Linked DNA regions of Homo sapiens. The protein of the gene in region 2 purifies or fractionates together with the protein of the main gene of each other region. This does not show direct contact. Each region holds a gene or a part of one and is shown on either strand. Other genes may lie near its edges.

Region 1 (3,500 bases), on a different chromosome or scaffold from region 2:
TCTGACACTACAGTGAGACAACCCTGCTCCAAAGAAATACTTGTGACTCATGGAGACTCATGGGCTTGTCAGTGGCTGGTGACTTCTACTCAACTTGATAGTTTCTGAAGACCCATCTGTGGCAGACACAGCTATCTTCTGCCAGTTTCCACTCTTCCCTTCTGTTTTAGCAATAGTACTCTGATTTTATTTAGGACAGAAAAGTCATCAGATAAAAGAGGGCAGATCTCCTCTTCCCTTGGAGCTACGTGTAGCCATTCGACCATGTTACTTTGACCAATGATGTGTGGATGTTGTTAAGAGAGGCATCTGGGAATGTTCCTTCAAAGAACTTGGATGTCTATTTGCCCTGCCCCCATGTCTTCCTTCCTATTGCCTGGAATGTAGAAGTGATGAAATGGAACTTCAACAGCCATTTTGGAGCACAGGATAACTTTGAGAATGGAAGCTATACAGTAGGGATTACAGCACAGAAATAGGAGACCAGTTACTTCAAGATCACAGAGCCCACTACCTCCAGACTTGTTTATATGTGAAAAATAATGCTTATGTGTTATAGACACTGTTATTTCGGATATTCTGTTATATCTAATGGATTCTAATAGTAGCTGATAAAATCAATGATCATGATTAGTTGAAGACAAGTATAGTATGATGGTCCATCTTGACAACTTCTTTCTGAAAAGAGCTCCACACACAATGAGAATATTCTATTTAGAAAAAAACCAAATAAGTGAAAAAAAGACCTAAAAAATTGGTTAGCTAAGTTAAAAAAGATGCAAATACACATGAATATATACATTTATACACATACATAGTTAAAAGATGGGGTAAATACACAAAAATGTTAAGTGTTTATCTCTGAGTGGGGTAATTATGTAAGTTTTTTTGGCTTGTTTACATTTCCACATTTTCCACAACAGAAACGTGTTTACTTTTAAAATCAGCTCCCCCTGATCCCTGGAAAGAATCAGCAAAAAACCAAAAACGTCCAAATTAAACCAGCATTACTAAAATGAAACCTGGTCACAGAATTAGGTTGTCAGTTTACTTAAGTAACAAAACATGTAATTGTTTTTGTGCTGACCAGTTCTTCCATGATTAATAATTTTAAGAACTGAACAATGGAATTTAAATGCTAGCTTTTTCAAGATCTAATAAAATTATGATATTTTATTTTACAATTAAAAAAATTAACCACAACCAGCTTAGCTATTATTTTGTCACTGGAATGAAGAAGCAGATAGAAGGTCAAATCATACATGGATCTGGAATACATTTTTCTGTTAAATTTGAAACAAAATATTTGCTATTATTTGAGTTCAGCACAAAAATCTAGTAGTATCACTGAAAATCCCCAAAATATTCTGGTTTTGGCAGAATTTCAATTTCTCACTTAGACTTTCAACTCATGTTTGAGCAGAAAGAATTACATTTGATAAAATCTGTAAATGAGGAAGGCATACTTTCTCATCCAAATAATTTTACAAGTCATACCTTCCTTATTTGGAATTTGAGATAAATGCATAAACTATTGCTAGTAACTTAGAAAAATATATTGTAAACCTACTTCCTATTTAAAAAAAAATATAAGACACACACAAAAAACCTTTGACAACTGAAACTACCATGGCCAAAAAGGCTTATATACATTTTCACTCTTCAGACTTGTAGTTCCTTTTTACCTGTGGTTGCGGCGATCCTAGCTTCTATTTCAGACATGTCAGCACTCATCCTCTTGCCCTCAGAGGTTGGGGGCAAGCTCTCCACACTGCTCCCACGGGAGGCTCCCAAGCTTAAACGTCCAGATTCACTCTGTTAAAATTACAGGTCAATCTGAATTACTGAAGTTCTTTAGATTTAGCAATCTTAGGCAACCTAAAAGGAGGAAGATGGCAAATGGGATTCTGATAGATCCTGTTCTGCTCTGAAAGGAGAGGGAAGTTTGTACGAGAGGGAGCTACAGGGGTAAGGGAAAGCAAGCTGCAGATACTGTCTTTATGAAAAGGCAGTCACTAGAACTGGGAGCTAAAAGCCCCAATTATTCGTTAACCTAAATGCCTCAGGCAAAATGAATAAACTCACTCCTTGAAATATTTTTAAAAATCAACAATGGCAAAAATATAATAAATCTGAACAGCATGAAATGATAGACTTAGAACAACTCCTCTAACTGGGCAGCGCAGCCAAAATATACCCATTTTACATTTTTAACCATCAACCATTACATTTAGGGATTATTATAGATAGGGATTTAGAATTGGCAAAGGTAGCAATCATTAGAAGGAAAAACCATTTGGTAATAAATGGTAGGAGAATCTCATTACGTGTCTCTATTTGTAAGCTCTTTTGCATGTTTCAGGAAGAAAATTCAGGATTTATAAAATAGAAGATGGTAAATAATTAATTTCAGTTAGTATAATATTGTGACTACTGGTAAGGTTACCAGTTTTACTTGTAATAACATAACAAACCTGTTGCTTTGCCTGATTTTTCAACAATTTTGATTCTAAGCGCTTAATAGTATCATTTGTGGCAGGAACTTGCTCCATATTAGTGTCACTTTTGTTACTCGTATTTGTAGAAGCAATGTCCATGAATGAGCCTAGGAAAAGCAGAAACATTTATGACTAATGGCTGGAAATAATACAAATGCTTCACTTGGTATTATGTAACTTACATTCTTTTATAAACTAGCCAGGCAGGAACAGAAATAAAATAAGACTTTTCAAGCTAATGAAGATATCCAAACAAACCCATTTTAAGAGAAACTTAAGGATAGCACAAAAAAGGAACCAAGATGCCTAAATAGTCTTCTAATAGTCAAGAATAACTTAAGGTTTTTAACCTGAGCTAGTAGAAGAACTGAGGGCTATTAATTGAGATGCGGAAAGACTAAAGGAAGAGTGAGTTTGAAGGAAGTATCAGGAACTCAGTTTGGAAAATATTAAGTTTGAGTTTCTAGTAGATGTAAAGGAAATAGTTGGATATATGAGTATAGAGTTCAGGTATAAGATGGAAAACATTATGAGCCAACAGATGGTATATAAGGCCATAATAATGAATGAGGTTACCAAGGAAATGAGTGCAGACAGATAAGTGAAGAAGCCAAATGAGCAGGCCCTGGGCACTCCAACATTTCTAGGTTGGGGAGATGAGGAATAACCAGCAAAGAAAACTGAGAACAGACGGCCAGAGATGTAAGATGGAATCTAGGCTAGTATGGTATCTCGGAGGCCAACTGAAGAAAGTGCTGTCTGTAAGAAGGAGAAAGTAATGAATTAGGTCAAGTGCTACTGAGAGTCAAGATGAGAAATGAAAATGATTCCTTAAATGTAGTGATGTAGAGATAACTAGTGACCTTGACAAGAACAATTCTGAAGTACTGGCATAATACGTCTGAATGGAGTCAGCTCAAGAAAGAAGGGGAAAAGAGAAGCTAGTGAATGCAAATACAGACTACGTATGTTTTAGGAATGATCCAGTAGAAAGCTAAAACT
Region 2 (3,500 bases):
CTAAACAGCAGCACAAAGGAAAACAAAAAACAACTTAGCTTCTGTTGTCTGCGCCCTTAGTGAAGCAAAAGATTAACAAGAAAAGCTGATGTCCTCTTTGGAGGAACTAAGAGCTGAGCTACCAGACAAGCAGTAGACAAATACTGCTCTGTGACATATGGTGGGGCTCCTGTGGGAGGAGAGTTTAGCCTAGGTTTTAAGGACACCACCAAACTAGTATAGGTTCAAGAGAGCAACCAGAATGGGAGGACCTGGAGACCAGGACAAGGAAGAACAGCTGAAGGCTATCAGCTGAGATGGGGAAGGAAAGAGTTGGCAGGCATAGGGTAACTGTATATGAGGATCACTTCTGAATAGTGAAAGATGTGTAAGAGACAGCCCAGACATTATAAGCTTTAGAAGACAGAACTAGGATCAGAGGCAAAGAGTTACAAAGGAGCCAATTTCAGTCTCATATCAGGAAGGATGGGGGACATTCAATATTTATCAAGCATTTACATGTGCAAGGCACCGAACTTCATAATTAACATGTTATCTTTTTTAATTATTTTTATTTATTTATTTATTGAGATGGAGTCTCGCTCTGTCACCAGGCTGGAGTGCAGTGGCGTGATCTCGGCTCACTGCAACTTCCACCTCCCGGATTCAAGCGATTCTCGTGCCTCAGCCTCCCGAGTAGCTGGGATTACAGATGCCCGCCACCACGCCCAGCTAATTTTTGTATTTTTAGTAGAGATGAGGTTTTACCATGTTGGCGAGATGGTCTCGATCTCAACCTTGTGTTCCACCCGCCTCAGCCTCCCAAAGTGCTGGGATTACAGGCGTGAGCCACTGCACCCAGCGTGTTATCTCAATCCTCATAATGCAGTTAGGTAGAGGTATTCTCTCCACTATATCAGTAAACAAGACTAAAACATCTTGCCATGAGTCATACAGCTAACATAATGCAGGCCTAGCAAATGTTTTCTGAGTATCATAGGTGCTGAGTGCTGGCTGGGCCCCTGAAGAGAGATAAGCAAGATAGTCTTTGCCCCTTAGAAGGGGAGGGCATAGCATATAACTGCCAGAGTATGTGAGAACATGCTCAGCACAAACACTCCAATGGATATAACAGGAGTATCAAGGAGTGAGCAAATCTTTCTGTCTTTTATAGCTGGACCTGGAAGAATATTTTTTCTCTTTCTTGAAGAAGAAATGCAACTGGGCAATATAGATAGAATACGGAAAGCCTGTCTAAATTTTACAAATTCTCTCTCATGGGCATGTGTTTCTCTTATAATTAATATCTGAAAAAAAAATCTATGATACTAAGAATATCAACAAGACATCACTTCTATGAAACTAAGAAAATAGTTAACAGGTGCTGGCCCCTGCTTGAAAAGCAGAGAGTAAGCTCACCTTCCCAGACTGAAAATGGAAGAAACTTCTGCTAAAAGAGGTAGACATTTAGATTAGATGACATGTTTGAGAACATCCAAAATCAATCACTGAACACTCCCTATGGTGTCAGCCTTTATAAACAGGTTTACAAGATGGAGTCTGATCCCAGGGAAAGCAGTAAGTTCAGATTAACTTCAAGTAAAGGGGAATCAGAGGTCCCAATATGTGTGTTCCAAATGAGTTATAACTGATAACTCATCCATCATTTTCTACTTAGATGACTCATATTCATTCACTCAACAAATATTTACTAAGAGCCTAAAGTGAGCTAGCCAATGTTGGTACCAGGATTTCGGCAGTGAATAAGACAAAGTTCCTCACACTCAAACTATCCAATACTGAATTTCCTAGTCAAACCTGTTTTTTCTATTTCTTTACTTGCTCATTCACCCAGGTGCTCAAGCTAGGAAACGTGGCAACCATCCAATTCTCCTCCTCCTCCTCATTCAAATCACAAATTCGATCACCAAGCTCTATTGATTTTATGCCCTAAATTTTTCTCTAATTTGTTCACTAATATATGCACTACCACAGCTCTAGTCCAAGACACCATCTTTTGCCTGCACTATTGCCAACAGCTTTCTACTGACCTCCCCACATCTACTTAGTCCCTTTGAATCAGTTAACCTCACATACAACCTGATGTTATCACCTTGTTTCAACTTCTAAACTCTTTGATGGCTCCTTATTGTGCCCCCATCTTTAGCCATGCTGATGCATTTAAGGAATTTCCTTCAATTTCTCAAATGTACCTGAGGCTCCTTTAACCTCAGGGCCTTCGAACGGACTAGTGTCTCAGTCTAAAATTCCTCACTGTACACCCACTCCTGGTACTTAGTTAAGGCATTTATACTCACCCTTTAGAGCTCAGCCCAAATGTCTCCTCTTAGAAGCCTTCCCTTACTCCACAAACTAGGCAGGGCCTCAAAGTACTCTGTACTAGGCTAGGCTCCTCTTAACCCAACCATTAAACAACCTGTTTGCAATTAGCTGTTTAACATCAGTCTTCCCCATCCTGCTGATCGGTAATTTCCCTGAGTTTGGTAAGTACTTCTGCTGTTTCCCAATGCATACCACAATGCCTGACACAAAGGTGGGTGCTCAATGAATATCTAAAGAATAAAGTAGTGGTGAAATAAACAAAGGCAAGTGCAAATTCCTACAAAAGAGATCTAAAGGAGGCTAGGAAGCCGGGTGCGGTGGCTCATGCCTATAATCCCAGCACTTTGGGAGGCGGGTGGATCACTTGAGGTCAGGAGTTTGAGACCAGCCTGGCCAACAGGATGAAACCCCATCGCTACTAAAAATACACAAAATTAGCTGGGCATCATGGCAGGTGCCTTTAATTCCAGCTACTCGGGAGGCTGAGGCAGGAGAATCGCTTGAACCTGGGAGGCAGAGGTTGCAGTGAGCCGAGATCACACCACTGCACTAGAGCCTGGGTGACAGAGTGAGACTCTGTCTCAAAAAAACATAAAATAAAAACGAAAAAAAAAGAGGCTAGGAAAAACAGCTAGAAAGTCTGGTAGGTCCCACATCATAACAGAACACAAAAAATAGGTGGCTACCGGGTTAGGGCTCAAGATCTGTGAAGATGAGCTGATTCCAAAGACTGAAACACAAATATGTTGCAGAATAGAGCACAGGTCTTGACAGGTTTGTGGCTTTCACTTTGATCACTTTAGAAATGGAACCAGACATCCCTGCTGTGCAGAGTCTGGGTCCTTGAACCTAAGTAACCTTACATGCTGTAGAGATAACCTAACTCAAGCAATCACATCATATCTCAGACTTATTGAGTAACATGCTGTTATTTGTGCTTTGCTTCTTTTCAATTAGCTTCAAAGCTAAGTAGCCCTACCTGGTCCTAGCAACTGAAGCCAGAGGATTTGTAGTAGGTTTCAACAGAGGTTGGTTTATCTGTGTTTGGGAGGAAAAAAGCAGACACAAGACAGACTCTTTTCGGAGAAAAAATCTGAACCTGGCAACTCCTACCCGCAAACAATCTTACAGGTTTATTATTTAAAACTATTATTCAAACACTAAAAACTAGCAACTTT

The links. Proteins that work in one complex are often made in the same cells at the same time.
Region 1: the proteins of FBXW2 (region 2) and MAP3K7 purify together in Homo sapiens (affinity purification with western blotting; one study listed by BioGRID). This does not show direct contact.

What each region holds. Positions count from the first base shown.
Region 1 is NC_000006.12:90,545,573-90,549,072, forward strand, and holds part of MAP3K7 (mitogen-activated protein kinase kinase kinase 7), read right to left. Parts: intron 2,606-3,500; coding exon 2,475-2,605; intron 1,816-2,474; coding exon 1,686-1,815; intron 1-1,685. UniProt on the Homo sapiens protein: Serine/threonine kinase which acts as an essential component of the MAP kinase signal transduction pathway. Plays an important role in the cascades of cellular responses evoked by changes in the environment.
Region 2 is NC_000009.12:120,765,917-120,769,416, forward strand, and holds part of FBXW2 (F-box/WD repeat-containing protein 2), read right to left. Parts: intron 1-3,500. UniProt on the Homo sapiens protein: Substrate-recognition component of the SCF (SKP1-CUL1-F-box protein)-type E3 ubiquitin ligase complex.